Homo sapiens: one gene and its partners. The protein of the gene in region 6 purifies or fractionates together with the protein of the main gene of each other region. This does not show direct contact. Each region holds a gene or a part of one and is shown on either strand. Other genes may lie near its edges. The genes, in order: OFD1, ARMC9, IFFO1, ITPRID2, SCCPDH, KRT86 and ERGIC1.

The links.
Region 1: the proteins of KRT86 (region 6) and OFD1 purify together in Homo sapiens (affinity purification with mass spectrometry; one large-scale study listed by BioGRID and IntAct). This does not show direct contact.
Region 2: the proteins of KRT86 (region 6) and ARMC9 purify together in Homo sapiens (co-immunoprecipitation; one large-scale study listed by IntAct). This does not show direct contact.
Region 3: the proteins of KRT86 (region 6) and IFFO1 purify together in Homo sapiens (affinity purification with mass spectrometry; one large-scale study listed by BioGRID and IntAct). This does not show direct contact.
Region 4: the proteins of KRT86 (region 6) and ITPRID2 purify together in Homo sapiens (affinity purification with mass spectrometry; one large-scale study listed by BioGRID and IntAct). This does not show direct contact.
Region 5: the proteins of KRT86 (region 6) and SCCPDH purify together in Homo sapiens (affinity purification with mass spectrometry; one large-scale study listed by BioGRID and IntAct). This does not show direct contact.
Region 7: the proteins of KRT86 (region 6) and ERGIC1 purify together in Homo sapiens (affinity purification with mass spectrometry; one large-scale study listed by BioGRID and IntAct). This does not show direct contact.

The regions. Positions count from the first base shown.
Region 1 is NC_000023.11:13,737,303-13,741,658, forward strand, and holds part of OFD1 (centriole and centriolar satellite protein OFD1), read left to right. Parts: intron 1-1,543; coding exon 1,544-1,612; intron 1,613-1,699; coding exon 1,700-1,730; intron 1,731-1,741; exon of another isoform or gene 1,742-2,911; intron 2,912-4,356. UniProt on the Homo sapiens protein: Component of the centrioles controlling mother and daughter centrioles length. Recruits to the centriole IFT88 and centriole distal appendage-specific proteins including CEP164. Involved in the biogenesis of the cilium, a centriole-associated function.
Region 2 is NC_000002.12:231,204,798-231,209,153, reverse strand, and holds part of ARMC9 (lisH domain-containing protein ARMC9), read right to left. Parts: intron 2,957-4,356; 5' UTR 2,916-2,956; coding exon 2,865-2,915; intron 1,028-2,864; coding exon 902-1,027; intron 1-901. UniProt on the Homo sapiens protein: Involved in ciliogenesis. It is required for appropriate acetylation and polyglutamylation of ciliary microtubules, and regulation of cilium length. Acts as a positive regulator of hedgehog (Hh)signaling.
Region 3 is NC_000012.12:6,545,866-6,550,221, forward strand, and holds part of IFFO1 (non-homologous end joining factor IFFO1), read right to left. Parts: intron 4,032-4,356; coding exon 3,891-4,031; intron 3,620-3,890; coding exon 3,611-3,619; intron 2,985-3,610; coding exon 2,803-2,984; intron 2,681-2,802; coding exon 2,560-2,680; coding exon of another isoform or gene 2,296-2,559; coding exon 2,200-2,295; intron 1-2,199. UniProt on the Homo sapiens protein: Nuclear matrix protein involved in the immobilization of broken DNA ends and the suppression of chromosome translocation during DNA double-strand breaks (DSBs).
Region 4 is NC_000002.12:181,922,375-181,926,730, forward strand, and holds part of ITPRID2 (protein ITPRID2), read left to right. Parts: coding exon 1-38; intron 39-4,356.
Region 5 is NC_000001.11:246,727,125-246,731,480, reverse strand, and holds part of SCCPDH (saccharopine dehydrogenase-like oxidoreductase), read right to left. Parts: intron 1-4,356.
Region 6 is NC_000012.12:52,298,343-52,302,698, forward strand, and holds part of KRT86 (keratin, type II cuticular Hb6), read left to right. Parts: intron 1-3,472; coding exon of another isoform or gene 3,473-3,574; coding exon 3,575-3,943; intron 3,944-4,356.
Region 7 is NC_000005.10:172,931,751-172,936,106, reverse strand, and holds part of ERGIC1 (endoplasmic reticulum-Golgi intermediate compartment protein 1), read right to left. Parts: intron 3,672-4,356; coding exon 3,571-3,671; intron 920-3,570; coding exon 797-919; intron 1-796. UniProt on the Homo sapiens protein: Possible role in transport between endoplasmic reticulum and Golgi.

The DNA of each region.
Region 1 (4,356 bases), on a different chromosome or scaffold from region 6:
TTACTGTTGAACATTAGTACTACTTTATTATTTTAAAGGCAGATACAGCAGACTTTCCCTGTGGATATGTGCGTGTTTTTTTTTTTTTAATAGACTTTATTTTTTCAGAGCAGTTTTGGGTTCACAGCAAAGTTAAGTGGGAAGTACAGAGAATTCCCATATACCTGCTGCCCCTACACACTCATAGCCTCCCCCACTGTCAACATCTTGCATCAAGGTGGTACATTTGCTACAATCTATAAGCCTACCCTGACATGTCATTATCACCCAGAGGCCATAGTTTACAGTGAAGGTTGCAGTGAGCCGAGATCATGCCACTGCACTCCAGCCTGGGTGACAGAGCGAGACTGTCTCAAAAATAAAATAAATTTCACTCTTGGTGGTGTTCATATGTTTTTACTTTCTTTGTGTTTTCTGTAATTATCCAAAAGTTTCATATTCCAAAGTTTTAGTGACACAAGCTTAGTACAGTATTTGAATGAAAACTTAAATAATTTGCATTTCTTCATAAGCAACCAAATTTTATTTGTCAGCATTAGGAATTTATTTATTAATTTATGTTTTTGAGACAGAGTCTTGCTCTGTTACCCAGTCTGGAGTGCAATGGCGCAGTCTTGGCTCACTGCAACCTCTGCCTCCTGTGTTCAAGCAATTCTCCTGCCTCAGCCTCCCAAGTAGCTGGGATTACAGGTGCCCACCACTACACCTGGCTAACTTTTTTATTTTTAGTAGAGAGGAGGTTTCACCATGTTGGCCAGGCTGGTCTCGAATCCTGACCCCAGGTGATCTGCCCACCTCAATCTCCCAAAGAGCTGGGATAACAAGCATGAGCCCTCGTGTCTGGCCTGGAATTCATTTTTGATACATCATTCTCTAACTTTCTAATCACTTTATACTTTTACTTATTGTGTAATAGTCAATAATACAATTATATAGCAGGAATTAATCCTATTCATACAACTTAACGGTTTCTACTAATGTAAAATGCCCATGCAGAATATTTACTTTAAAGGAAAACCAATTGAAAACAAATATCAGTGTTCTCAGAGCAGACATAGTGAATGGTATATACTGTAGTAGAAATATATTTTAATAGCTACCCAAAATGTCTGTTAAACAATATTTTAAGTACACTTTAATTACGGTTTTAAGGACAGTAAAAATCTATTTACATTTTTAAACAATGAATACTTTTTAAAAAATTGTAATTGAATGACCCAGGAACTCAGTCATGTAGTCATTGGTTCATCAGATATTTCAGTGTCATCTGTAAGGCATTAAACATTTAGGCATATCATCTTTGATGTGAAGTACTTAGAAGTTAATTAGATGATAAAGATATTTTATCCTTTTGACCTTGATATGTTTATAGTAATTTATTTAACAGTGTAAGAAAGAGCTTGAAATTTGCTTTATTAGCATAGTTATAATCTTATTTAATCTGAAGGATGTTTCTTAATTTCATATTCAGAAACATATCCTAATTTATCATTTAAACACTGATATAAAAATATGTCTACTTAGTAACCTATTTTTTCTTAAGGTATTTACTATGCAGGATCTATTACAACTCATTAAAATCAACCCTACTTCCAGTCTCTACAAATCACTGGTAAGATGGCTTAGTTTCTGTAATCTACTTTGGTTTGTTAATTATAACTGAATAGCTGAATAAAAGTGAAATATTTTCTTTTAACAGGTTTCAGGATCTGATAAAGAAAATCAAAAAGGTAGGAGCCGTCATCTTTGTAGAGAACAGCAACAGTTTTCTATGTACTTTTTCCTCTAAAAGAATGAAGCAAATTTTTAGGGAGAAGAGTAAAATTTAATTTGATTTAAATTATTTGATTTCTGCAGGTCATTTCCCCTATATTTCCATTTTTGTAATAACTTTTAGATATTCAATTAAAAAAACTGTAGACAGTATCAAAGGCCCTACAGACAGGCTGAAAGATACTGTTTGTAAAAATACCCACTGTTGGGAATATTTCTGCAAAAAAAAAAAAAAAAAACTAATAACTTTTAGGCCAAGTGTCTTTGTATACTAGGTATCCCTCTCAAGTATAATTGGTAGGGTATTAGATGTATTAATATTTCCTTAAAGAATGAGAGTTGTGTTCAGTAATGTGTTATATATCTTTTGTTCTTAAATGTTTATACAGGCCGGGCGTGGTGGCTCATGCCTGTAATCCCAGCACTTTGGGAGGCTGAGGCGGGTGGATCACCTGAGGTCGGGAGTTCGAGATCAGCCTGACCAACCTGGAGAAACCCCGTTTCTACTAAAAATACAAAAAAATTAGCTAGGCGTAGTGGCGCATGCTTGTAATCACAGCTACTCAGGAGGCTGAGGCAGGAGAATCGCTTGAACCCGGAAGGCAGAGGTTGCGGTGAGCTGAGATCACGCCATTGCACTCCTGCCTGGGCAACAAGAGCAAAACTCCGTCTCAAAAAAAAAAAAAATGTTTATATAGACCTAATAAATTGCCTTAATTTTGGCCTTGATAATAGCCATTCATAGAGTCCATAACTACTGTGGGTTTCAGGCCATTGGTTAGACTTGATGATGGGCTTTGTAGCATGAACATAAGCTGGCAACTTGGCTTTGATGCATAGTTATTCTTTAGGTCTTTTAAAATAATCTGTTAGTAATAGTCCTTTTGTGTTGGTACACCCTTGGATTTTGTCTGTTGCCTGCACTATCATCCCCACAAGGACATTCATTTATTCATCCATTCATTCGCCAATTCATTTAGAACTTAATCATTTGAATACTTATTTTCTGCCAGCCATTAAGTCTGTGACTTAATCGCCAAGTCTCTTGGTAGTAATGTTAGCAGAATATAAATAAATTGGAGCACAAGATATTCTGGACTGCCCGCAAACTAGACCATCTCTACTGAAGTTCAGTATGGTAAATGATCCTATATTCTGTACTCTAAGTGTCGTCCAGTGTGACTCTCTGTGATTATGGAAATGTCTGTGTCTATGCTGTTTAATGTGGTAGCTGCTATCCTCATGTGGCTTTTGAGCCTTGAAATGTGGCTAGTGTGACTGGATAACTGAATTTTTAATTTACATTTAATTAGCTACACTTGCATAGTGACTACCATATTAGCATAATTCTGAGGTATATAGCTAGTATCTTTTGCTTAACTATTACTTCAAAAGGAAATTTGTGGCTTGAAGGGATATTAAGAAATAATCTATGGGCCAGGCACGGTGGCTCATGCTTGTAATCCCAGCACTTTGGGAGGGCAAACCTGGCTGATCACTTGAGGTCAGGGGTTCAAGACCAGCCTGGCCAACATGGTGAAACCCCATCTCTACTAAAAATACAAAAATTAGCCAGGCGTGGTGGTGAGTGCCTGTAATCCCAGCTACTTGGGAGGCTGAGGCAGGAGAATCGCTTGAACCAGAGAGGCGAAGGTTGCGGTGAGCCAAGATAGCGCCACTGCACTCCAGCCTGGGTGACAGAGCTGGACTCCATCTCAAAAAAAAAAAAAAAATCTATGTAGTTACTATAGATACATTATCCTTAAAAGTAGTTTTTCCATGGCCGGGCGCAGTGGCTCACGCCTGTAATCCCAGCACTTTGGGAGGCTGAGGCGGGCGGATCACGAGGTCGGGAGAGCAAGACCATCCTGGCCAACATGGTGAAACCCCGTCTCTACTAAAATACAAAAAAAAGTTAGCCAGGCCTGGTGGCGTGCACCTGTAGTCCCAGCTATTTGGGAGGCTGAGGCAGGGGAATCGCTTGAACCCAGGAGGCAGAGGTTACAGTGAGCCAAGATCACGCCACTGCGCTCCAGCCTAGCGACAGAGCAAGACTCCGTCTCAAAAAAAAAAAAATAGTTTTTACACAGTCTCTTTAAATGCATCTGGTTCAGAAAGACATCTGGCCGACAGCCCTTACCAGCTTCACCTAGCATCCCAGTAAAATTTCTGGAAGCCAGAAAAACTATGAGTAGCAGATAGGTCAGGCATCCTAGTGCCAAAATTTGGATAGAACTCTTAGCTAACAAAATAGCTCCTGGTAAGATAAAATTTTTTTAAAAATTGGTGTCTTCTAATTAAGTAACAGAAAACATGTAGGAAGATATTGTGTACTTAACCGTTGTCTGTCCCCTGACTCAGACCTATGGTCTTATCCTACCATATCTATGCTCAGGGGGTGCTAAGCTGTTGAATGGCCTTGGTACTTTTCCTCCTAGATTCTAGTCACCCATTCTTCCCACTGCTAATTTTCCTTTCAGAGATAATGATATCTGTTATGCGTGTCTGTGTGAAGAGACCACCAAACAGGCTTTGTGTGAGGAACAAGGCTGTTTATTCACTTGGGTGCAAGTGGGTTGAGTC
Region 2 (4,356 bases), on a different chromosome or scaffold from region 6:
AAGGCGGGCGGATCACTTGAGGTCAGGAGTTCAAGACTAGCCTGGCCAATGTAGTGAAACCCCGTCTCTACTAAAAATACAAAAATTAGCCAGACGCAGTAGCACGTGCCTGTAATCCTAGCTACTAGGGAGGGTGAGGCAGGAGAATCGCTTGAATCCTGGAGGCAGAGGTGGTGATGAGCCGAGATCGTACCACCGCACTCCAGCCTGGGCGACAGAGCGAGAGACTCCATCTCAAAAAAAAAGAAAAAGAAACGAGGTCCTACTGTGTTGCACAGGCTGGTCTTGAACTCCTGGGTTTATGCGGTCCTCCTGCCTCAGCCTCCCAAAGTGCTGGGATTACAGGATTCAGCCACCATGCCTAGTCAAGGATTTTTAAGGTCCCTTCTAACCCTGAGAGTTGAGGTCTGTATAACCTCTGTGCCCCTGCAGCCCACTGGTATTCACAGAGCTATTCAGACTTCCTTTCACAGACCCGCCTTGTCAGTCTCACTCTTGCTCCCTGTTCCCTCCAACCTCCCCAAGCTAGAATGCAAATGCTGTGCTGGCAAGGGGCTGGATTTTGTTTGTTCACTGCTGGATCCCCAGTGCCTAGAATTAATAACCTGAAACTCCTCAGGAGGAAGGCTACAATTGTCTCAGTTCCTAAACACTGCATGGTTTCTTCTTTTCCTTCTTCCCAAGAAATGTTTGTGAAAGATCTTATATGGCCACACATTTCCTGGGGAGGGTACAGAGATTTAAAATGACATTATTAGTTCATCTATAAACACTTGTGCCATCTAAAGTAACTCTGAGCAAGTGCTCAAAAACTATTCTAGCACTATCCAACAGCAGCATTTTCCACAAGTTGGGAGCATCCTGAATTATCTACAGGGATGAAAAATAAGCAAAATGTTACCTGAATTGTCAATGATTTGGAGTCTCTGAAAGATCCGCCTACTGTTTTACACAATGGTTTTCCTTTTATTTTGCATTCTTTTGAAAATGTTTTCAAGGTGTCTTCAAATTCAGCAAAATCTAAATACTATAAAAAATAAATAATTCAATTCAACAGCAAAACAAACAAATAATCCAATTAAAAAACAGCCAAAGGATCTGAATAGATATTTATCCAAAGAAGACATTAAAAAGACCAACAGATACATGAAAAGGTGCTTAACATCACTAACAATCAGAGAAATGCAAATCAAAACCACAGAGACCTAATTACCTCACACCTGTCAGAATGGCTATTACAAAAAAGACGAAAGATAAAAAGTCTTGGCAAGGATGTGGAGAAAAGGAAACACTTGTGCACTCTTGGTGAGACTGTAAATTGGTACGGCCATTATAGAAAACTGTATGGAGGTTCCTCAAAAAAATAAAAATAGAACTACCGGCCAGGAGCCGTGACTCAAGCCTGTAATCCCAGCACTTTGGGAGGCCAAGGCGGGTGGATCACGAGGTCAGGAATTCGAGACCAGCCTGGCCAGCAAGGTGAAACCCCGTCTCTACTGAAAATACAAAAATTAGCCAGGCGCAGTGGCGCGTGCCTGTAGTCCCAGCTACTCGGGAGGCTGAGGCAGGAGAATCGCTTGAGCCCAGGAGGTGGAGGTTGCAGTGAGCAGAGAAAGCACCACTGTACTCCTGCCTGGGCGACAGAGTGAGACTCCATCTCAAAAAAAAAGAAAAAAAAAAGAAAAAATGGTATAGGCCAGGTGGCATGGCTCATGCCTGTAATCCCAACACTTTGGGAGGCTGAGGTAGGAGGATCGCTTGAGCCTAGGACTTTGAGACCAGCCTGGGCAACAAAGCGAGACCCCATCTCAAATAAATAAATTTTTAAAAGAAAATGTGTTATATAGGTAGGGTGCAGTGGCTCATGCCTGCAATCCCACAACTTTGGGAGGCTGAGGCAGGAGGATTGCTTGAAGCCAAGAGTTCAAGACCAGCTTGGACAACAGAGTGAGATCCTATCTCTACAAAAATTAGAATAAAACCTAGCTGAGCATGGTGGTGCACGTCTGTAGTCTCAGCTACCCAGGAGGCTGAGGCAGGCAGATTGCTTGAGCCCAGGAGTTCAAGGCTACAGTGAACCATGATGATGCCACTGCACTCCAGCCTAGGCGGCAGAACAAGACCTTGTCTCTAAAAAGATTTTTAAATGTAAATTTTTTAAAAAAGAATATATTCGCCATCACACCACCAAATTCCAAATCTGCAGTTGCACGGTGGGTGCCTCATCCCTGCTCCAGGCCCGTGGCTCTCGCAACCTGCAGGTGGTTACTCACACAGTTAAGCAGCAGCAAGCGCGAACCATTTCTTTAGCACCAGAAAGTTTAAGGCCTGGGCCCTACTTGTCAAAGCTTTTAGCGTAGGAAACCTAGGCCATTACCAGACAATGAGTTAAAAAAATTATGATGCAGCCACTCAATGAAATACTCTATGGCATTCAAATGTCTAGGGCCGATCATAGGCAGATGTTCATGCTATATTATTGTTGGCAGATAAAAAGCAAGCTACAGAACAATGTATCATCCCATTCTGTAAAACAAACTACAGGCATGTGAATATATTTTTACTATACATAGAAAAAAGTCTGGGAGGGAAATTTCCTTTTTATACTTCTGTAGTGCTTGAATCTTTTACCGTGGACGTGTATTGCTTTTATAATTTTCTTTCAAGGGACTTTTTAAGTGGCTTTAAGATTTGTTTAGTTATAAAACCAAAATGTAAATACATGGAATATTATATAATAGAAAAATAGCTCCAACATAACAATAGAAGAAACATTACAAGGCACTAAATAGTTTGTTGCATTTTAAAACACAAGTTTTCAAGATCTGTTTCTCTGTGACCTCTGCTTTGTATAATATACCTACCTCTTTCACTAGTCCAAGTAATTCAGATTCATGAGCCAGAATGTCCCCCATATTGAACTGTTACTGGTAATTAATTCTCACAGCAAAAATCTCTAGAAGGCAAAAATACAAGACAACAGCTTTCATTTCAACCACCTATGAAACTACAAAAAGGTGGTTGTGGTGAGCAGAATAATGGCCCCCAAAGACATCCATGCGCCAATCCCCAGAACCTGTGAATACGTGAGGTTACACGGCAAGGGGGAATTAAGGTGCAGATGGAATTAAGGTTGCTCATCAGCTGACCTTTAAATTGGGGGATGATCCTGGATTACCCAGGTGGGCCCAAGGCAGTCACAGCAGAGGGAGGGGGGCAGACGGAGGCAAGAGGGTCAGTGCCAGCATGATGAGATGTGAGAAAGACTCAACAGCCACTGCAGGCTTTAAAGGGGATAAAGTGGCATAAGACAAGGAGGGTAAGGAGCCTCTAAAAACTGCATAAGGCAAGGAATAGATCCTCCCACTGCATCCAGAAATGATCCAGCACTGCAGACACCTTGACTTCAGCTCAGTGAAAGCCATTTCAGACTTCTGACCTCCAGAACTAGAAGATATTAAATCTTTGTTGCTTGACACCACTCAGTTTATGGTCATTTGTTCAGCGGCACTAGGAAATACAATGGCTAAAGTCAAAAGAAACTCTTCCTACTCTTTCTACTAGCCCTCCCTCAAGGTGTACCCAAAGCAGTCATTCCCCATGGCCCACACCCCAGGCTCAGCCCAAAGCAGTTGCCCGTAACCCCAGAGGAATGAAAAGGTCTGGGCTCTAATGTTAACCATGCCATTCACTGGCACCTGATCTGAGACAACTCACTGAAGTGCAGAGCCTTTCTTCATCTATAAAATTCAGAATGTGTCAGAACTCATCGAATTTTTTTTTTGAGATGGGATCTCACTCCGTTGCCCAGGATGGAGTGCAATGGTGCAATCATAGCTCACTGCAAGCTAAAACTCCTGGGTTCAAGGGATCCTCCCTCCTCAGCCTCCCCAGTGGCTAGAACTATAGGTGCATGCCACCATACCCAGGTAATTTTTTTTTTTTTTTTTTTAAGTAGAGACAGGGAGACAGGGTCTTACTAAGCTGCCAAACTCCTGGGTAATGCAATCCTCCCGCCTTGGCCTCCCAAAATGCTGGGATTATAGGCGTGAGCCACCACACTCAGTCAGATCTCTTCTGAGTCTGTAACCTTACATTTTTCTGCCACTGCCTCCCCACCTCCTTTCTCTCCACTTCAATCCAATTTCTACACTTTTAACAAGTGAGCATTCCCCTCCTGCTTGGGACCCTCCTGTGGTTCCAGCGCCCTCCAGATGAAGGCCAGGCTCCTTAGGCTCAACTCCCAAAGCCCTAGACAACTTGGCCTCTGACACACTCCCATTTGTTCTGTAAACCTGAGCCACACTGGCCACTGTGTGGTTCCTGTGGACACCCACTGAACACCCAAAGCACACG
Region 3 (4,356 bases), about 46 Mb from region 6:
TTTTACTTCATAATGGCCCCAAAGCACAAGAGTAGTGATGCTGGCAATTTGGATATGTGAAAGAGAAGCCAAAATATGCTCCCTTTAAGTGAAAAGGTAAAAGTTTTCAACTTAATAAGAAAAAGAATCCGATGCTGAGGTTGGTAAGCTCTACAGTAAGAATGAATCTTCTATCCGTGAAATTGTAAAGAAGGAAAAAGAAATTTGTGCCAGTTTTGCTGTCACACCTCGAACTGCAAAAGGTACCGCCACAGCGCACGCTAAGTGCTTAGTTAAGATAGAAAAGGCATTGAATGTGTGGGTGGGAGACATGAACAGAAACACGTTCCAGTTGACAGCAACTGGACCCAAGCTATCAGGAGGTCAGTGCTATCTTTGGTTTCAGGCATCCACTGTGGGTCTTGGAACACATGCCCTGAAGATAAGGGGGGACTACGTATGAATCTCCCATGTGGGCCTGAAGAGAGGCTGAGACGCAGAGAAGGCTCCATGCCTCTCCCAAAGTCAGAGCGTCGGGAAAGGACCACCTCACCAGGCCAGGAGAGCTCACGGGGGTCCCGTCCATCCCTCCTCCCACAGCAACAGCAACCTCCATTCTGTGGTTCCACAAATCCTTCTTCCTTTGTTTGTATTTTTGAGACGGAGTCTTGCTCTGTCGCCCAGGCTGGAGTGCAGTGGTGCGATCTCGGCTCACTGCAAGCTCCGCCTCCCGGGTTCACGCCATTCTCCTGCCTCAGCCTCCCGAGTAGCTGGGACTACAGGTGCCTGCCACCACGGCCAGCTAATTTTTTTTTTTTGTATTTTTCGTAGAGACGGGGTTTCACCGTGTTAGCCAGGATGGTCTCGATCTCCTGACCTCGTGATCTTCCCGCCTCGGCCTCCCAAAGTGCTGGGATTACAGGCGTGAGCCACCGCGCCCGGCCTCCACAAATCCTTCTTGCAGCTCCTAAAGCCTAGAGTTTGAGCTAAAGCACCAGCTCCACTTGCCTCTAGGTACCTCTAGAAGGTACTTCAAGGCTTGGGAAAAAGCATGGAGATTTCTCTGTTATCTCAAAGGCTGAGTGGAAGAAACAGGAAAGTCCCAGTCCATCTCTGAGTGCCATGGCACTGATAGTGTTAATAATAATAAAACAGTCCCCACTATGCTACACTCGCTATGAGCCAGACACTGCCCTAAGCTCTATATATGCATTATTTCATCTGATCTTCTAAACAACCCTATAGGTGAGGTATTATTAAATTCCTCATTTTACAAATAAAAAGGCCCGGCACAGTGGCTCATGCCTGTAATCCCAACACTTTGTGGGGCCGAGTTAGGAGGACTGCTTGAATCCAGAAGTTTGAGGGCAGCCTGGAAAACATAGTGACACCCTGTTCTCTGTAAAAAAAATCAAAAAATTAGCCGGGCGTGGTAGCACACGCCTGTGGTCCCAGCTACTTGGGAGGCTGAGGTAGGAGGATTGCTTGGATCCAGAAGATCACGGCTGCAGTGGGCCTGGAGTGACAGAGCAAGACCCTGTCTCAAAAAAAGAAAGAAAGAAAGAAAGAAAGAAAAAGAAACAGGTGTAGGGCTGGACACATGGCTCATGTCTCTAATTCTAGTACTTTGGGAGGCCGAGGCAGGAGGATCACTTAAGCCCAAGAGTTTAAGACCTGCCTGGGAAACACAGGGAGACACCATCTCTACAAAAAAATACAAATAAAAATTAGCTGGGTATGGTGGCACACACCTGTGGGCCCAGCTACTCAGAAGGCTGGGGTGGGAGGATCACTCCAGCCTAGGCAACAGAGTGAAACAGAGTGAGACCTTGTCTCAAAAAAGAAAGGACAGAAAGACAAGGGAGAGAGGGAGGGAGGGATAGAGGGGGAGGGGAAGAGAGAGAGAGAGAGAAAGGAAGGAAGGAAGGAAGGAAAGAAAGGAAAGGAAAGGAAAGGAAAGGAGGGGCTCAGAGGGAACAAGTAACTTATTACAAGTTCAGGGTGGTTGTAAGTAACAGAGCTGAGATTTGAACCGATATCTGTCTGTTTCCAGAGCCTGAGGTCTTCAGAGCCCACCAGGAGGACTATAGCTGAGAGATCACTCCTCCTCCCAAGACCTTGGTCTCTAGGGTCCTGCAGCAGGGATGAGGCCACTGCGCCTGCAGCCCCACTCAAAACCCTCTGGGACACCACGCCCCTGGCTTCCGCTCCTGCCCTTACCTCTATCTGGTCAATGGTCTCCTGATACTCCTTCTCCCGGGTTTTGAACAGGGACTCCGTATCTTTAATCACCTTCTCCAGGCTATCTTCCTGCTGCTGGAGTAGAAAGGGAAGCGGGGGAGGCCAGCCAAGGAGGGATGGGATGGGACGCATTCCAAAGGGCCAAGTCAGGGAGAGAGAGAGAGAGGAAGTCTGGTTAAAGAAACTGGAGAAAGAAAAGCAAAAGGATAAAGGAAGAGGGGAGACGCAGGTAGAGGATGACAGCCACATGGGGGGACAGAGCAAGGAGAGGAGCGGGGGAGTGGGCTTCAGGCTGGAGAGGCAGAGCCAGAGGGCCCTGAGGCCGGGAGCAGAGGTTACCTCTCCCTGGGCCTCTGCAGCTGCCATGGCATAGCCTGAGAAATCCTCCCAAAGCAGCAGGGTCTCCTCAGTCTCCTCCCAAGTCAGGCTGTCACAGTCGTCCTCAAAATCATACTCCCTCCTAGAGACAGGGAACCCGGGTGTCAGGGCGGGCGGGGCCTCGTCCTGGCGGGGGACTGGGGAGCTCCGGCCTCCTGGGCTGCTGTGGCGTCGGTGCTGCGGGAGCACGGCCTGCGGACTCACAGCTGGTTGAGCATGCGCTGCATCTCCTCGTTGATGCTGAGGGCTGTGCTCTCCTCCTCATCCCCATCGGGCTGGCGGGGCCCCTCACTCTCCGACAGGGAGGTGTCCTCCTCGACGGCAGCCTTGCGCTCCCGCTTCCGCCCCCCCATGGATGGGACCTTAATGGGAGACAAGTGCAGAGACTACAGAGACGAGGCCGGGTGCATGAGGAGAAAGGGCGGGAGCGGGAGGCCGGGCAGAGAGGGTGGGAATGGGGGAGAAGCATGAACCAGTAGGAAGGGGGGGCAGACAGAGAGAAAAGTCACAGTTACAATGACAGGAACAGAAACACGGACAGTCACCAAGGGCCAGACACACAGCGGGGGTCAGGGCTGCAAACCGAGAAGGCAGAACAAGAAGAAATCGAGAAGAAGAGCAGTCAGACAAGGAAGGAAGGGCTCGCTGGGGCTGCAGTCAGATGTGCATGATGGCTCAAGAGGAAATTTTTTTCTAAAAAAAGTCTTTTTGATTAAATGACTCAACTAAAAAAAAAAAAGCTTTAGGACGCAAGGAGGATGAGTGTGCAATGTGTACAAAAGAGAACCTGAATCACATCCAGATCTGGAAAGCCGGGGGAGAAGGGAGAGAAAGAAATGCAGTCAAGAGAACAAGAGATAGAGAGAAAAAGGGGGAAGAGCAAGGAAAAGGGAAAGGGCAGAAAAAAATCCGTGCTCAAGAGCCCAGCGGGCCCAAACTGAGGGCCAGGAGGCCTAGGCAGCTTAGAAACTGGGACTGGGACATTAATAAGCTTGCGTGAGATCAAACTAACCAGCTTCTTCTGTGGAGGAAGCAAGAGAGAAGATGAGAGGAAGAGAGGAGAGGAAGCAGACAGAGGAGAGAGAGGGGGAAGGGAGAGACGGCGTTAGAGACAGCTTCCACGATGCCCCTCCTGATGCTGCTCCTTACCCCCCAGTCTAGCCCCGTGAGGGCCCCAGTTGCCAGGTAAGGCTCCCCAAGCAGGAGGCAGGGCCTGCGTTCCAGGCCAGCCGCCACGGAAGCATCCACCTGCCCCACCCACCCCTGAGAGCAGAGGGCAGCTCCGTCCTCACCTGGAACATCTGGATCATGTCCTCGCAGTTGCGCTGCTGAGCCACATCGCAGAGCTTGGCGGTGATGTCGATGCGGCGGCAGATGTCCATATCCACCTTCATGGCTTTCTCCTGGATCTTGGTGTCCAGCTCCGACAGGTTCTGTCCAGGGAGCCCAGGGAACAGTGAGGAGGCGCCCAGTTCTCCAGACAAGGACGAATTAGGCCTGGCAAGGTCCTCATCCTTCCCACCACATTGCACCGGTGCCTCTTCTGTGGAGTCTCCCTGAGCTGACTGCACCCCTCTTCCTGGGTAGCGGTGGCCTCCCCACAGCACTGTGTGAATATGCTGGGCATGGGGCGGCTCGGGCCACTGCTCCCTGGCCAAACGGAAGCCCTGGAGGGCATGGCCAGTGCCTGGGACATGCAGGGGGCTCACTGGAACGACTAGCGGTCCTCATCCTCCTAGAACTTACATTCCCAGAGAG
Region 4 (4,356 bases), on a different chromosome or scaffold from region 6:
ATGTGGAGCAAGATGAGTTGCAGCAAGTCATACGGGAGGTGGGTAAAATCTGTGTTTCATTCATTTATTTGGAGGTATATGTTAGAGGAGATTTTGTCTGAATATTAATTATTTACAGAATGTTCTTTTGATTCACTGTATTCAATAATTTTCACAGAGCTTTTAAATTAGCTTTCCTGTTGATCAAGTTTGTGTCAATTAAGATATATTTGTAATGGCATTTCTGCAAATTTCATACTCTAATGTGAAATAATTACAATTCTCTGTGTTCAGTATGGTGAAAAAGATATGTGAAGGACTCAAAATAAACATGACGTACTCTTTGGACCTCTTGTTTCCACATCTACAAAATGAGGATTTACAGTTTAGATCTCTTCGAGGATTAAAAACTGCATTTTATAGCTGGACGTGGTGGCATGTGCCTGTAGTCCCAGCTACTCGGGAGGCTGGGGTAGGAGAATTGCTTGAACCTGGGAGGCGGAGGTTGCAGTGAGCCAAGATCATGCCATTGCACTCCAGCCTGGGCAGCAGAGCAAGACTCCATCTCAAAAAAAAAAGAAACTGCATTTTATAATTACAATTGATAGGAGAAAATGATTTTGTGATTTTAATAAGTATAAATAGATTGATTTGGTTTGGTGTTTTTTATTCAAAAATCAAAATATACGAAGAAAAGAGGGTTTGCCCTAGGTGATAGCAGCATAAGAACTTGAAGAATTACCATAGTTATGGATGACCAAAAGAACTGCAAAAGGAAATTACATATGATTAGTAGTGAAAGTTCAAAAGTTGAGAAAATTAGTAAAATAAATGTTTTTTGCACTGAGATCAGGTAATAGGAAGGAATAGAATATATCGTTTAAACAGCTCAATGCAATTATCTCTGTTTACCTAGTAGTATTCTGTGGATTAAATTGTACATAAGCAAATGTGAAATTTGCTGTATATGCAGTTCTCTAGTATTTCAATCATGTTGAATCAAATCACATTTTCAAAACAAGCATTATAGCAGAAGACTTCATATCTGTAATTTATTTTCATGATATGACTCTACCAACTAAATGTTTAAAAGGTCTTAATTCTATAAATTTATTTTTCCTACAAATGTAATTATTTTTGTAAATTGGTTTTGGCTGCCTAATGTTTAGCAAACTCAGCATTCACCCTACTCGGTCAGGTGTGTCTATGATTAATAATCCATTCCTGTTTACATGTTTTATATCAAAGATTAGTTTTTGAGTGAAATTATGTAATTATTCTTCTCCACACTATATTTGCTAACTGAGGAAGTGGGTTTTAAGGTAATTTTTTTTTTTCTAGAAATGTGATGGTTTTGTTCCCCTTAGCTTGCTTTGGTATGAAAGTTTTCTTTGAAAACTTTATATTGCTCTTTTAAAACAAATACTCCATTCAATGCACACTTGAATCCTCATTTTTAGAATTTTAATGGCCTGATATGTCCTGTAGGTGATTTCCTAAGAATAAAGTGTTCATTTCAGACTAGAACATTGATTCTTTGGCTTATAAGACACAGCATATAGAAAATTTAGTTATTCCCATTAGGCTGCCTTGGTCCTAGAGAATTAATCATTTAAAAGAACCTCTCATTAAATATGAAAGATTTTATAATTTGCAAACACTTAAGCTGGTATGCAAGGCAAATGTTCAAAGAATTTTTCAGAATTTGTTATTTAAACCATTAATTAGAAACTACTTAGTTCTGAATTTGGCATAGGCTTGAGGAAATTGGGTTTAACATTTATTCTTTTACTGTCTACAAAGGGCCTACCCAGCAAAATATGTATAGATCAAACAAGGCATAAGAGGAGTATTGTTGTACTTAAGAAAACAAATTATTTTGAAGTACTTTAAAAGCATATTTAATAGTTTAATGCCAGTTATAATTTAAAAAATTATGTTAATATTCTCTTAGTTACAATAGTTTTCTGTTTATAAAGTATTTAAAATTTAGTTTGGTTTTTATTCCAGTCATTCAAATTGGTAACCTTTTTACCTAAATACATACTGTACTAAATTCCAATTTTTTAAAATCTTGGTGTACAGCTACCAAGAAAATTAAATTAGATTCTGTCTTCCTAGCAGATCTGAGCCCCTAATCCCATTAACAAAGCCACCATTCAGGAAGGCAAGATTTAATCTTGGGTTGAACAGTTTTGCAGGTGAGGATTAAGCATGTTTGGCAGGCACTTTCAGGAAAGTTTTCTTACTGCGTTCATGGATGCATGAAAACAATGGTATCTGTCAGGCCTTTGTTTCTTTCGTTGTACCATTAAGTGAGGTTTTTAAAAAGAGGGTTTTCATCATTTATAATGTGTTAATACAGTAGAATTCTTTTTTTGAAGGACAACATTGAAAGTCTTTTCAGACAAATATTTAATACACTAATTACATAGCTAAACTTTTGTCATATTAAAGATACCTCTTTTCTGCATGTGCATTGTACTAGGAAAAAAGTACACACTGTCTTAAAATTTGCCCAAGTCATCTGTGATGTATGTGATCAGTGGCCTGAAACTGTTTGCAGTTACTTTAAAAATGTATAAATGTGTGTAAATAAAAAGATTACTTAATAGGATGAATGAATACATGCCCACAGAAGCCAATTCAGCAAAATTAAATGTCAAGGAGTAAACATAGATTGCTTTGTGTTTAGAGAGTTATTTGTTAATTAGAGTTCATAGACTTGATTCATGCCTTTTGGGATCTTTATTAGAGCACGTCTGACATGTTTTACCCATGTATTTTGGTAAATACACAGCTTGCTCATGTGTTCTTATGGAAATTTCTTTTAGTGATCACTTGTAATAGCTGCCACTTAGTAGGCACTCAGTAAGTGCATAATAAGTGGATGTGTTCCCACATACTTCAGACTTGTAGTCAGTCTTTTTGTATTGTCGATCAGCATGACTTTCTCAATCTCAGGTAGTCTGTATTTAGCCTACATTTTTTTGGAAATTATGCTCATAAAGGTAATTTTACCATCCATCCCAGGGTAGTTTCCTCACTTCTAATCCTTCCAACCTCTCCATAGCATGGGAGACTTTAGAACTAAATTATTTGTCCATGCATTTATTCATTCAATAAATTAATAAAGACATTGTATCATTTTCAGGGCCATTTTATCTGTAGTCTGCTTTCGTTTTTCTGCTTTCTCTTCCTTTTTGTGTCTGATATTGTCTCTCACCCTTGTGCTTTCTCACTCTCTCATTGATTCATTCATTCAGACGCTTACTGAGTTCTTACTGTATGCTGAGATACACTGATAAATGAGACCTGACCTGCTCGCTGAAGGAGCTCACAGTACACCTTCCATCTGACCTCACCCTTCCTATTCTGATTCCCTTCTGCTCTCTAGAGGGAACTGTCTTGGCAGTCAGGCTCCATTATACTCCCCTCTTATTTGAGACCGTCTTGCTACAGAGTTTTCTATCTCCACTGTCATCTGAAATTGTTCTTTCTTTGTTGTGACATACCATGTAAAAGCTGCCATTCTCTGAGAATTTTGTCCCACACTAGTCTCTCATTTATCAAAATTTTTTGTTCTTATGTCATTAATGAATCAATAAATTATTTTTCCTTTAGTATTTTATGAAACCGACGAGGTGTGGTGGCTCACGCCTGTAATCACAGCACTTTGGGAGGCCGAGGTGGGCGGATCACCTGAGGTCAGGAGTTCGAGACCAGCCTGGCCAACATGGTGAAACCCCATCTCTACTAAAAATACAAAAATTAGCCAGGTGTGGTGGTAATCCCAGCTATGCAGGAGGCTGAGGCAGGAGAATTACTTGAACGTGGGAGGCAGAGGTTGCAGTGAGCCGAGATTGCGCCCCTACACTCCACTCTGGATGACACAGCAAGACTCTGTCACAAAAATAAATAAATAAGAAATATATTTTATGAAACAGTATTCATTTTGTGTCCATTGAGATTATATCATGCTTGATGGTAGGGATTCTTTTATACTTTATTCCAATAATGCCTGTACTCCCAAAAAAGATTGGCACACATTCCTGGTTTGTCAAGAATACATTTTGGCGACTGGGCGCGGTGGCTCACGCCTGTAATCCCAGCACTTTGGGAGGCCAAGGCGGGTGGATCACAAGGTCAGGAGATCGAGACCATCTTGGCTAACATGGTGAAACCCCGTCTCTACTAAAAATACAAAAAATTAGCCGGGCGTGGTGGCGGGTGCCTGTAGTCCCAGCTACTCAGGAGGCTGAAGCAGGAGAATGGCGTGAACCCAGGAGGCGGAGCTTGCAGTGAGCCGATATTGTACCGCTGCACTCCAACCTGGGTGACAGAGTGAGAATCCATCTCAAAAAAAAAAAAAAAAAA
Region 5 (4,356 bases), on a different chromosome or scaffold from region 6:
CCACAGGCTCACTTCTCATGTCTGGCTAGTGAGCCCATCAGCTAGGCAGTGTATCTATGAGTACTGGCAGGCTGCAGTGAAGTATTAATGAGCTTATTAAAATAATCGTAGCTCCTTCTGGAAAGAAAACGCATTTTCCTATTTGCCAGTCTGCCCATTCCTTACTTTTACTGCATTTTGTCACATCTGGCCCACTTCTTTGAGTAATCTGGAGTTGAGACTTCTCACTAACTTATTCCTATTTTATGAACTTGCTAGATTTTTCTCCACTTAGTACCCTGTGCTTGTCTGAGACAGGTGAACAGTCAGAGTAGCAATCCTTCATCTCGGGGAGACACTTCTCCCCTGTGAGGCCAATTGGCTCAAAGGTCAGAACCGCAATCCTGCTCTCCATGTCTCATCTTCTTCTTTTTTCTTTTTGAGCTGGAGTTTCATTCTTGCTGCCCAGGCTTGAATACAATGGCGCAATCTCAGCTCACTGTAACCTCCGCCTCCCGGATTCAAGTGATTCTCTTGCGTCAGCCTCCCGAGTAGCTGCAATTACAAGTGTGTACCACCATGCCCAGCTAATTTTTTGTATTTTTAGTAGAGACAGGGTTTCACCATGTTGGCCAGGCTGGTCTCAAACTCCCGACCTCAAGTGATCTGCCCACCTCAGCCTCCCAGAGGTTTGGGATTCCAGGCATGACCCACCGCGCCTGGCCCTCAAAGTTCCATCTTCTAACCCAGTGGTCTCCCAAGTAGTCTTCCCCTAAGGGAAGCGCAGAATGATCCACTGAGGGTGGAAGTAAATATCAGAACTTTTATCCATGTTAATGTTTACAAAAACATGACGTTCCGTTAACGGTTACTATATGGACTGACTACGAGACATTCCCTGGGCCATGTTAAGTGGTCATGTGTTGAAGACAGGACACAGCAGGTATCCTGATGGGGTTGTGGGAAAGTTTCCATCACACAGAGAGGGCCTCAGCACCACTCTTCATTCATTCAGTCGTTTTCACTTTACTGCAACCTAATGCCTGAATGAGGTTATTGAGGTTCTAAAGCTTAAACGCTGAGGCCTCAAGCATTTAGAGTGGGGAGGACAAAGACGCAGTGGAGGAGACGAGGACTTCCAGGGTGAAGCTGGTGGACAGGAGGAAAACTACGAGAAGATGACAACGTAGAAGCTGAGCAAAGAAAGGAGAAAGTGGTCAGCTGGATCGAATGCTGCAAGCTTTCAGATGAAGACTGGATTTGACAGGGTGGGACTTTAGCAGAGTAGTTTCATTGGAGGAGGGAGGAAAACAAAAGCCCAATAGGAGGCGTTTAAGATAGAGTAGGAGGTGAAGAAGCAGAGATAGTGAGTCATGAGAATTCTTCCAAGGAGGCTGCTAAAAAGGGGGCACAAAAAGTAGAGTAGTTGGAAGGGTATGTGGAATCAAGCAGCTTTTTTTAAAATATGGGAGATATCACATATTTAAATGCTGATTGAAATAATCCAGTAAAGAGGAGAAATTTGATAACAAGATAATGTGTAATTGTAAACATAAAGTGTTACAGGAAGTCAGGGACCCCGAACAGAGGGACCAGCTGAAGCCACGGCAGAAGAACATAAACTGTGAAGATTTCATGGACATTTATTAGTTCCCCAAATTAATACTTTTATAATTTCTTACACCTGTCTTTACTGCAATCTCTGGACATAAATTGTGAAGATTTCATGGACATTTATCACTTCCCCAATCAATACTGTTATAATTTCCTATGCCTGTCTTTAATCTCTTAATCCTGTCATCTTTGTAAGCTGAGGATGTATGTTGCCTCAGGACCCTGTGATGATTGAGTTATCCGTACAAACTGTAAAACATGTGTCTTTGAACAATATGAAATCTGGGCATCCTAAAAAAGGAAGAGGATAACAGCAATTTTCAGGGAACAAGGGAGATAACCATAATGTCTGACTGCCTGCGCGACTGGGCAGAAGAGAGTCATATTTCTCTTCTTGCAGAAAGCGAATAGGAGAAATATCACTGAATTCTTTTCCCAGCAAGGAATAACCCTGGGAAAGGAATGCATTCCCAGGGGGAGGTCTCTAAAATGGCCGCTCTGGGAGTGTCTGTCTTATGCAGTTGAAGATAAGGGATGAAATACACCCTGGTCTCCTGCAGCACCCTCAGGCTTGCTAGGATTAGGAAATTCCAGTCTGGCAAATTCTAGTCAAACTGGTTGTCTGCTCTCGTACCCTGTTTCCTGTTAAGATGTTTATCAATGACAGTGCGTGCCCAGCGGGACATGGAACCTCATCAGTAATTCTAATTTTGCCCTGGCCTTGTGATCTTGCTCTGCCATTTGCATTGTGATACCGTATTGCCTTTTGAAGCATGTGATCTCTGTGACCCACTCCCTATTTGTACACTCCCTCCCCTTTTGAAATCCCTAATAAAAACTTGCTGGTTTTGCAGCTCAAGGGGCACCACGGAACCTGTCAACAAGTGATGTCACCCCCAGAGGCCCAGCTGTAAAATTTCTCTTTGTACTCTTTCTCTTTATTTCTCAGACTGGCTGACACTTAGGGAAAATAGAAAAGAACCTATGTTGAAATACTGGGGGCTGGTTCCCCCGATAATAAAGTCTTTGAAAACTGTGCCCAATAGGAAGAGGACCAGTTTTTCCTTGTAACAAGAGATATGGCAGACTACAGGGTATGATGCAGATTGGCAGACAGGTAGGTAGGTAGATAGATCTGGTGGTAGGAAGATGAAGAAAGAAATTCTGTTATTAACCAGCTTCTATTTTCATAGTTAAAAAAAAAGAAAAATAAAATCAGATAAGAACAAGGAAAGAGAGACGGGATACTAAAAGTTCAAGGAAAACAAGGTTGTGAGCTGCTTCAGAGAGCAGGAGAGAGAATTCCTGAGGGAAATAGAGCAGAGCTGCCGGAGGTGCTAAGCACCACACAACGTTTGTAAACACATATTTGAAGTGTGACCAGTTAGCAGGGGGATACATTTTTCTCCAGCCACACTGTGTTACTCATGTTCAGGTGAAGAGCAGGCAGAGAATAACCAGGGCTGGGATTTTTCCAGAGTACTGAGGAGAAAAAGGCAAGGGAGATAGATGAGGGCGTCCATTATAGAGTGCAGCAGTGGACCTCATGGATGGAATCTAAGCTAGTTAAGAATGAGATGAATCTAAATCAACAACACTTCTATTTAATAGCAATTCAAAAACCCTTTTGCTCTCAATTAAAAATTATTAATATTTTAGATATTTAATTTTTAAACATCTTGCCAACTGTGATGGCTTCTTCAGATCACTAAATGTCACCAACATTCACCTTGTTACACAGGCCAAAAGTCTGATGGCCTGTGACTTGATGACTTTTTCACAGTACAACAGCAAAAGCCGTTCTCCTTTGAAAATATACTCTGGACCTAACTACTTCTCAGCACCACTACGACCCCAGGGCTTGTGCTTGCACCATTCCATTGCTCATCCTTTGTTATCTACTTTTCCACTCAGAAGCCAAAGAACTTCCAATTTAAATCAGCTGAAGCCCTTCCTTTCAACCATTCAACGCCTCTTGGTCACACCTGGAAAAAAAATCCACATCCTGGCCATGGCCCGTAAGATCCCACATGACCCAGCTCCCGGGTTGCTCTCTGATCCACTCTCCACCTCTCTGCCATGCCCAGCCACACTGGCCTCTGTCACACTCTTCAGTCTTGCCAAGCACACTGGCATCTCAGGACCTTTGTGCCTGCTGTCCCTGGAAAAGTCTCTCCTCAAAAGGTTCATGCAATTTGCTCTCATTTCATTCAGATCTTGGCTCAAATGTCAATTCCTCACAGAAACCTTCCCTGACCATCCATCTAAAAACACCAATATGCCAGGACCTTTTCTCCTTTCTTGGCTTCACTTTTCTTCAAAGCACTTTTCATTACCTCCTATTACAATCCTATTTTTCTGTCTTCCCCAAGAACGTAATGTCCACGAGGGATTTTCTGTTTTGTTCACCATTGTGTCCCAGGTGCCTACAATAGTGCATTTCACATGTGGTAAGCATCAATAAATATTTATTCAATAAATGAGTCGTTTTTTAGTCTTCTTTTTGTGCATTTAAAAAATATATTTACCCAGTAGTACAAGAATATAATTTATAAATAAAAAATATACTAGGGAGACACACTCAAACATTTTTTACCGAAGGGGTATATAGTAAAAAGGAAAGAAAATTCTGACAATCACAGATGTAACCAATCAACAAGCCAGCACACATGCCCTAAGGAGAACGTCATGGAGAGCCTGTCACTCACTCTCTCAGGAGACTTTGGTCATCTCCAGCTGCTCCTCGCAAGAAGAAAAAACTCC
Region 6 (4,356 bases):
ATTTTCTATGTGCCAGCTGCTGTTAAACATTGTCCATGCATTATTTCATTTAATCCTTCTACAAGTTCTTTAAGATAAGGCGGTTAATGAAAACTGGACACAGATGGCTTAGGCATGTGGATGAGTATATCCCATCAATGCTGTTGATACGTCTGCAGCAGCAGCATCAGCAGCAACAACAACAACAACTAATATGATTACACACTTAGAGTGTGCCAGGCTTAGTTCTCAGTGATTTACATGGATTAACTCTTTTAATCTTTACAACTTTATGAGGTGGGTACTATTATTATCTTCATTTTAGAAATCATGAAATGAGGTACATAGAGGCTAAGTAATTGCCTGAGTTTACACAGCTAGAGAGTGGCAGAGCTAGAATTCGAAACGAGGCAGTTTGGAATCTGAGTCTGTGTGCTTAACTAATATGCCATGTATTCAAACTTTTTATTTATTTATTTATTTATTTTAATGTTTTCTTTTTATGGGTACATAATAGTTATACATGTTTATGGGCTACATAAGATATTTTGAGATAAGCATAAACTGTGTACTGATCAAATCAGAGTACTTGGAATATCCATCACCTCAAACATTTATTATTTCTTTGTGTTGGGATCATTCCAAGCCTACTCCTTTAGTTATTTTGAAATACACAATAAATGATTAACTATAGTCATTCTATTGTGCTACTGAACACTAGATCTCATTTCTGTTATCTAACTGTATTTTTGTACTCATTAACACGTCTTTATCTTCCCCTCCCCATTACCCTTCCCAGCCTCTGGTAACCATCATTCTACTCTCTATCTGATGAGATCAATTTTTTTAGCTCTCGCATATGTGTAAGAACATCTGAAATTTGTCTTTCTGTACCTCAATTATTTTCCCTAACATAATGTCCTCCAGTTCCATCCATGTTGTTGCAAATGACAGGATTTCATTCCTTTTTATGGCTGAATAATATTCCATTGTGTATCTGTAACATACTTTCTTTATTCATCCATTGATGGACACTTAGTTTGATTCCAAATCTTGGCTATTGTGAATAGCGCTGCAATAAACGTGGGAGTGCAGACATCTCTTTGATATAAGAATTTTCTTTCTTTTGGATGTATACCTAGTAGTGGGATTGCTGGATCACCTGGTGGTTCTATTTTTAGCTTTTGGAGGACACTCCATACTGTTTTCCATAGTGGCTGTAGTAACTTACATCCCACTAGCAGTGTACAAGTGTTCCCCTTTCTCCACATCCTTGCCAGCATCCATAATTTTTTTGTCTTTTTGATAAAAGTCATTTTAATTGGGTTGAGATGATAATCTTATTGTGGTATTGATTTGTATTTCTTTGATGATATGTTGAGCATTTTCAATATACCTGTTGGTCATGTATATGTCTTCTTTTGAGAAATGTCTATTCAGATCTTTTGCCCATTTTAAAATCAGATTATTTGGTTTACTTGCTATTGAGTTGTTTGAGTTCCTTATATATTGCAGCTACGAATTCCTTGTCAGTTGAATAGTTTGCAAATATTTCTTCCATTCTGTAGGTCATTTCTTCAACTTGTTGATTGTTTCCTTTGGTGTGCAGAAGTTCTTTTAGCTCGATGTGATCCCATTTGCCCATTTTTTGCTTTGGTTGCCTTTGGTTTTGAGGTCTCAATCAAGAAATCTTTGTCCAGGTCAATGCCCTAAGCATTTCCTCAATGTTTTCTTCTAGTAGTTTCATAGTCTGAGGTCTTATATTTAAGTCTTTAATCCATTTTAATTTGGTTTTTGTATACAGTGAGAAATAGATATTTCAACTTTTCTGCTGCAACTATAATAAGAAATAATTTTACATGGTGACTGAGTATGCACATACATATACATAGGCCATACAACTGAAACAAAAAGGGCATGTAACAAGTTATTCCCATGACATAAGGTGCAATCTGCTATTTTCTGGTCTATTCTACTCTATTTGATTTTCTCATAATCAATTTCATTAAAATAAAATTCTGGTTGGTTCAATTAGTGGGTCAGAACATGAATTCTGAATAAACACTGCCCCTGAGCCCACCGCTTCCTAATGATTGTAATGAAGCCCATCTGCTCTGTGCTCTGGAGTCCACTGAGCATGTACACATTTCTGTAACTCTAAGGCAGTAGTAGGAGGGAAAGCCTTAACCTATTTCCCAGGAGAGTCAAGTGCCTTCCCCTAGATCACACAGGGGTACTCAGGGCAGAGCCTTGGTTCCTACCCAGCCTTTGTGAGTTTAAGACCCACACTATTCACACTGGATGGATGGCACATACAAATATAGATCTGTTCTCTGGCACCTGCCAAGGGTACTGACAAACTTCTGTGCAGGAGTTTCAAGGAGTATAGTGCAGAAAGCAGCAGGGACTCAGGGGATGATGGCAGGGGCTGGATGCTCTCCTCATGTGGCTCTATTTGATCTCATATTCTGAGCCAGATACTGTATAGATGCATAACAGTGGTGCTCATCCCAGACCTTCTAGGCCCTGGAGGTTACACAGAGGCCTGAGAGGACATCCAGACATTCAATCCTTGTCTAGGGCCTTGTGGGAGGTAATTGTGCTTTCCTGGGGCCAGTGGGCTAGTGTGTGCTCCTGAGGCCGCATGGGACACTCTGAGGGAGGGAATGCCTCCTCTCAGCCGAGGCTGGCCAATATGACCTAATAAGGTGGCCTGAGGACTAGTCTACATGCTAGTTGAATGTGCAGGTGAGGACCTGTGAGTGTGTGTGTGTGTGTGAGATGGTGGGTAGAAAGGCCAGCATGTGAAAGCATTGTGTGTGTGAGTGTGTATGTGAAAGAGAGAGGGGGGGTTGTGAGTAGGAAGGCCAGCATGTGAGTGCATTGTGTGTGAGTTTGTGTGTGTATGTGTGTGTGCACCAGAGAGTGGGAGAGAGAGAGAGAAAAAAACATGTTGATAGGTATAGATAAGGGATTTGGGAGTAGGTGTGGAGGAACTGGGTCCCTGAGAAGGTGACTAAGTTAGAGATTCTGTAAACGTGGGTCTTTTGGGGTGCAGAAACAGGTCATCTAGTTCGGAGAAACCACCAAGCGCCCCCCAAGTTCCACATCAAGGGATTCCCCCTCCCAACATTCCTGGCTAGTCCTATGAGCACCGCGGACAGCGGCATTGACCATGTCAAACCCCGCAGGACAGAAAGAGCAGCAGCCCCGCCCCTTCCCTTCCATTCCAACCTGAGTCACTGCCCACTCCTTCGTCCAACGTCAGTTTCCTCAACTGTGTATTGGGAGGTTGAGGTGGGTGTGCGGGACGTGAGTTGGTCCTTTGAAGAAGAAAACTGCAGTTTAGGGCAAGAGATCATAACATCTGGCTGCTTCTGGGCACCAATTAAGTACATTAAGTGGGGAGCGACAGCAGCTAAACAACCCAAGCCCATAAAGCCTTCTAATTGCTCCGACCCACGTGGTCACAGTCTCCCCACTTATATAAAAGGCCTACAGAGGTGCAAGTAGTGAACGCCTGACGCCCCGACCACTGTGCTCTCCATTCGGACGTCTCCATCCTCAGAACCTCCTCTCTTCCCCAAAAAGCACCATGACTTGTGGATCTTACTGTGGTGGCCGCGCCTTCAGCTGCATCTCGGCCTGCGGGCCCCGGCCCGGCCGCTGCTGCATCACCGCCGCCCCCTACCGTGGCATCTCCTGCTACCGCGGCCTCACCGGGGGCTTCGGCAGCCACAGCGTGTGCGGAGGCTTTCGGGCCGGCTCCTGCGGACGCAGCTTCGGCTACCGCTCCGGGGGCGTGTGCGGGCCCAGTCCCCCATGCATCACCACCGTGTCGGTCAACGAGAGCCTCCTCACGCCCCTCAACCTGGAGATCGACCCCAACGCGCAGTGCGTGAAGCAGGAGGAGAAGGAGCAGATCAAGTCCCTCAACAGCAGGTTCGCGGCCTTCATCGACAAGGTGGGTGTCCTGGATCACACCCTTCCTGAACCCCCACCACCTACACAGCCAGGGCCGGGCACTAAGGATGGAGTCAGAGGCACAAAGACCTCTGCCTGCCTGAGATCCCAGTCTGATGGGCGAGGCACACAGACACACAGACAGACAGACACATGCACAGACACACACACACAGGCACTCAAGATGCAGACTCAGCTGACAGTTCAGATAGAGGGAGCTTGTGAAGGAAAAGTGTGGCCAGGCTGCTCTGGGGCACAAGCTAGACATCAGGGAGTTGGGGGAGGGGGGCATGTGACCACTGCTGCTGAACTCAGAGGGGTTTGGGCAGCCCCAGGGTGAGAGAGTAGGGTGCACTGACTTCCAGATGACACAGGGGAAGGGCTGGGACAGCTGAGCTCCCTTCCAGATGGCCT
Region 7 (4,356 bases), on a different chromosome or scaffold from region 6:
GCCCTTGATCTTGAACCATCATTACAAGCATGAAGAAGTACAGAAGCATAAGGGCCTCCCAATGCCATATTTATCTTTAGGTCTCAGTTTCCAAATCTGTGAAGTAGGGATAGCCACCCTGTCTCTTCCACCTCAGCTAACTCTGGCTTCTTCAGTACCTCCTGGGCCTCTTGGGTGAAGAAGGGCACCCTGACCCTCCTGTTCTGACCCTAAGGACCTTCTGAATGGGAGGCCAGGAAACAGTAGACATGATAGAAATAATCAGCATAAAGGAAAACTAACATCAGCTTGAATCTGCCCTAGAGAAAACTGGATGTGGTAGAGACCATGGCAAAAAAGAGAGAACAGAGAGGAAGGAAAGGGAAAAATCGGACCCTATCAGCAGCTATAACTGGAAATTAGACCTGGAAAAAAAAATGAGTTCAATCTTTGGTGCAAAATTTACACATTAAAGGATAAACTCTGCTAAGAATAATTTCCATAACAATAAAAAGCTGGAGAAAATCCTAAACATCTAGTGGAACCATATGGAGATTTGCTTCAGGAATTAAATGGATTTCAGGGCATTCCCCTCTGGAAAATACTTTCTAGACAAAACGTCATCGATACTGATGTGTTTCTGACAACATTTCTCAGCATCCTTGGGGTCGAAGCCTCCTGTGCCCAGCCAGAGCCCCTAGCCCTGCAGGCTGCCTCCTGTTTCAGCGAGAACAGGTGAGGGGTGCCAAGGAAAGGGGCCCAGAGCAGGCGCAGGGTGGCTGGCTCAGGGCCCCACCCACTGCCCCAGGCCACTCACCGTGGTGATGAATCTGTACAGCGGCTGCCGTCTCTCTGTGTACTTGACCGTGATGGGGCTGAGGTCGTAGCGGAACCAGATTGCAGGGATGATGCGGCCCGTGTGGCTGTAGGCGACGTATTCCTGGGGTAGAGGATATAAGAATCAGAAGTACAAACTGTGTCTCAGGGGGGGCGGGGACTGGATTGCAGAGGGCCCCCCAGCAACCCTCCAGAAAGGGCTTTCCTCCCTCTCTGCCCCACGAAGCCAGACTCCCCCACTCCCTCTCTCACATCCCTTCCCCTGGAGGCCCTGAACTCTGCCGTGCACAGCTGGGCATTTTTGATACCCTTGGTTGTTTAGAAATTGACCAAGTGAGCTGCAAGCAGCACCAGAATCAGAAAATAAATTAGAAAGCAGAGCTGTAAAAGGAAAAGTGCAATTTTTGGCTATTGCCTCCTTCAACCTCTGGGCCACGCGAAATCCATTCATTTATTCAACAATGGTTTGCTGAACGCCTCCACTGTGGTGGCCCATGGCTGGCTGCTGGGGACCCCGAGGTGAGCAAGTCCTGCCCTTTACCCAGAGGGAGTCGCAGTCTGCAGAAGGAGGAAGACATAAGAATATCCCTAACACTGTGACATCATGCATGTGGGATGGAGGAACATGGAGAGTTGAGGGGAATGAATGAATGACCCATTCTCCCGGGCGGCATCTGGGAGACTGGGGAGGGGACATTCTGAGCCACACATGATGAATAAGCAGGAGTCCCAGTGTGTGTGTGTGTGTGATGGGTGTAAATGCCACGTGGGGAGTGGGCTAGCTTCTTCAGAGGAATAGACTGAACTGCAAAGCCAGAAGGCCCCGCCCTGCCACCAACCTTCCTGAGAATGCACACAGCAGGGACTAAGGATACTACGAGGCTGAGCTAACAGTGCATCCTTGGGCCAGCCCCTCCCTCCCTCAGGGACTTGGCTTCCCCATCTAAACACGGATGGGCCTGGGATGATGATCCCTGGGATCTCTCCAGTTTGGGCACTTCAAGGTGCTAAAGTCTGCAACAACTGGAGGCCAAATTGAACCACTGGGGTACCCCCAACCCCACATGCTGAGCCTGAGGAGCCCAGGCCACTCCGGGGGTAAGTAACACTGAGCCCTGACCTCCCGCTGGGTCGCTGCTGCCTGCTCCCAGGGCAGAGTGCGGCTGCAGCCATAGAGAAGCTAAGCAAGCTGTATTTGGCTGCTGGGCCTTGCCAAAGCATTGGGAAAAGGAGCTTTGTGCAAGGGAAGACCAGCTTTCTCCAGGAGAGCTGCTGGGGCAGGATGACTGTCTGGGTCACAACCCAGAGCTGAGGGACAGAGAAAAAGAGTGAAAAATAGCAGCAGTCAGTATCACTTACCTAAAGGCTTTTTTTTTTTGGTGGGCTAGGCATTTTTGAAAACATTGCCTCATGTGACAGCACTCTTATAAAGTATCATCTCCATTTTATGAATGAGTAAACTGAGGCACACAGTGGCTATGTGACATGTCCGGGGTCAATAGCTAGTGAATGACTGAGCTGGAATTTGAACTGCAGCGTGGTCCTGAGCTTGCATCTGTGCTTTTCCATCTGTTAGCTGCTATGAGCATGTGAGGGTTACAATGAGATGCCCCCTGTGAAACAGTGAATAAAAGAAACAGGGGCTCCCGGGAACATCAATTTAGGGTGAGTCAGAACAGAGGGACTAAGTCATTGGACAGAGAGCAGCTCGCAGGTGGGCAGACTCACAGCCCCTTCCTCAGACCGAGGCGTGAGGTGATCAAGAAGCCAGGCTCTGGAGCCCAAGGAAAACCTGTTCTAATCCCCACTCAGCCACTTTATAGCTCTACAACCACCTCTCAGTGCCTCAATGGTCAAATCAACAAAATGGGCTCAATAACAGTCTCAACATCAGAGCTGTCATGATGATTGAGAAGACGGAAGAAGAGAGCTTAGCATGTCTAGCCCCCAGGAAGTACTCAATGAGTGACAGCTATGCCTCCTACTGTTGTTATAATTAACTGAGCTAAACAGGTATCACTTATAAGGGGTTTGGGCAGCCTTGGAACAGAAGAAAAAGGACAGTCCTGGTGGTAAGTGGGAAAAACCCATCCGCCAGGGTCTAGCAGGGGCATTTCAACCAACAGGTTTCAAGTATTCATGTCCCATTGGTGGGATACCCCCAGGGAAGCCCAAGGCTGTCTTGTCTTGAGACCACTAATTGCTGGGTCATCCCACTCTGCAGACTCTGACCATGCTCTGCTGCCCACTAAGGCCTGGCGTCTTCTCCATGACTTTGAGTGTTGGGGTCCTGGGGACACCCCTGTCAATCAACAGCAAATTAATCAACAGCCATCTTGGTGTGACTCAGTAGCCTCATGAGTTTGGGTAAAGTGCCTGTGCCCTGAGAGCAGGAGTGTCTGTCTGTGTTGAGCACCCAGGGGTCTGTGTCTGAAGGACTCGGACCAGATGCAGGGCTGTTTGAGACCTGCAACCCCAGGACCTTTGTAGGACAGAGACTACCTGCTCTTTGTCAAACGCATCACACCCTATCTCCTGGTTAGATCTGTTCTCCTTGACTCTGAGACTGCCACATGGCAGGGACTGGGCTTTTCAATTTTACCCAGGGACAGCGCCTGGCCCAAGCTAACCCCCAGGAAAGGCCTCCAGAAAGGAATCAGAAGAAAGTGCGTCGGTGCAGCCGCCTGTCATCTCTGCTCTCCGTCAGCAGAGGGCGCCGCCGCACACAGCTCGGCCCAGCCACCGCCCGCGCACCTTGTTGGCCACCGTGTACTGGTAGGAGTACCGCTGCTTGCCACTCTTGTCCTCATAAACCGTGGGCACAATCTTCAGGATGTAGTCGTGGGAGGCCAGGGCTGCGGGAAGGACACAGCAGAATGAAGCAGGGGGACGGGCACTGCCCGCTGACAGCTCTATGTCATTTCAATCCTAAGCCTAAATTCCCTGGGCACGGCAGGGGGCTCATTCCCCAGTTTTACCACCAACCAACTGCTCTTCATCTTCTCCCCTTGGATACCGGGAATTGGGAGACTCTATCCATCAGGATCTTTCCTCCTGCACTGTGCACATCATTAAAATTCTGGAAACAACCCAAATGTCCATCAATAGAGCAACCATGAAAGAGTGAGTGTTGGCCAGGCGTGGTGGCTCACGCCTGTAATCCCAGCACTTTGGGAGGCCGAGGTGGGTGGATCATCTGCAGTCAGGAGTTCGAGACCAGCCTGCCCAAGATGGTGAAACCCCGTCTCTACTAAAAATTCAAAAATTAGCCAGGCGTGGTGGCAGGTGCCTGTAATCCCAGCTACTCAGGAGGCTGAGGCAGGAGAATCGCTTGAACCTGGGAGGCGGAGGTTGCAGTGAGCTAAGGTCATGCCACTGCACTCCAGCCTGGGCGATAGAGCAAGACTCTGTCTCAAAAAAAAAAAAAAAAAAAGTGTGGGTGCTAGGAGCAGCTATTCTCCAACAGGGAAAAGAACCAAGTCATGGGACAGGATACACATGTGTCCATGGATTGGGGGAGGAGGAGACACTCTGTATCCA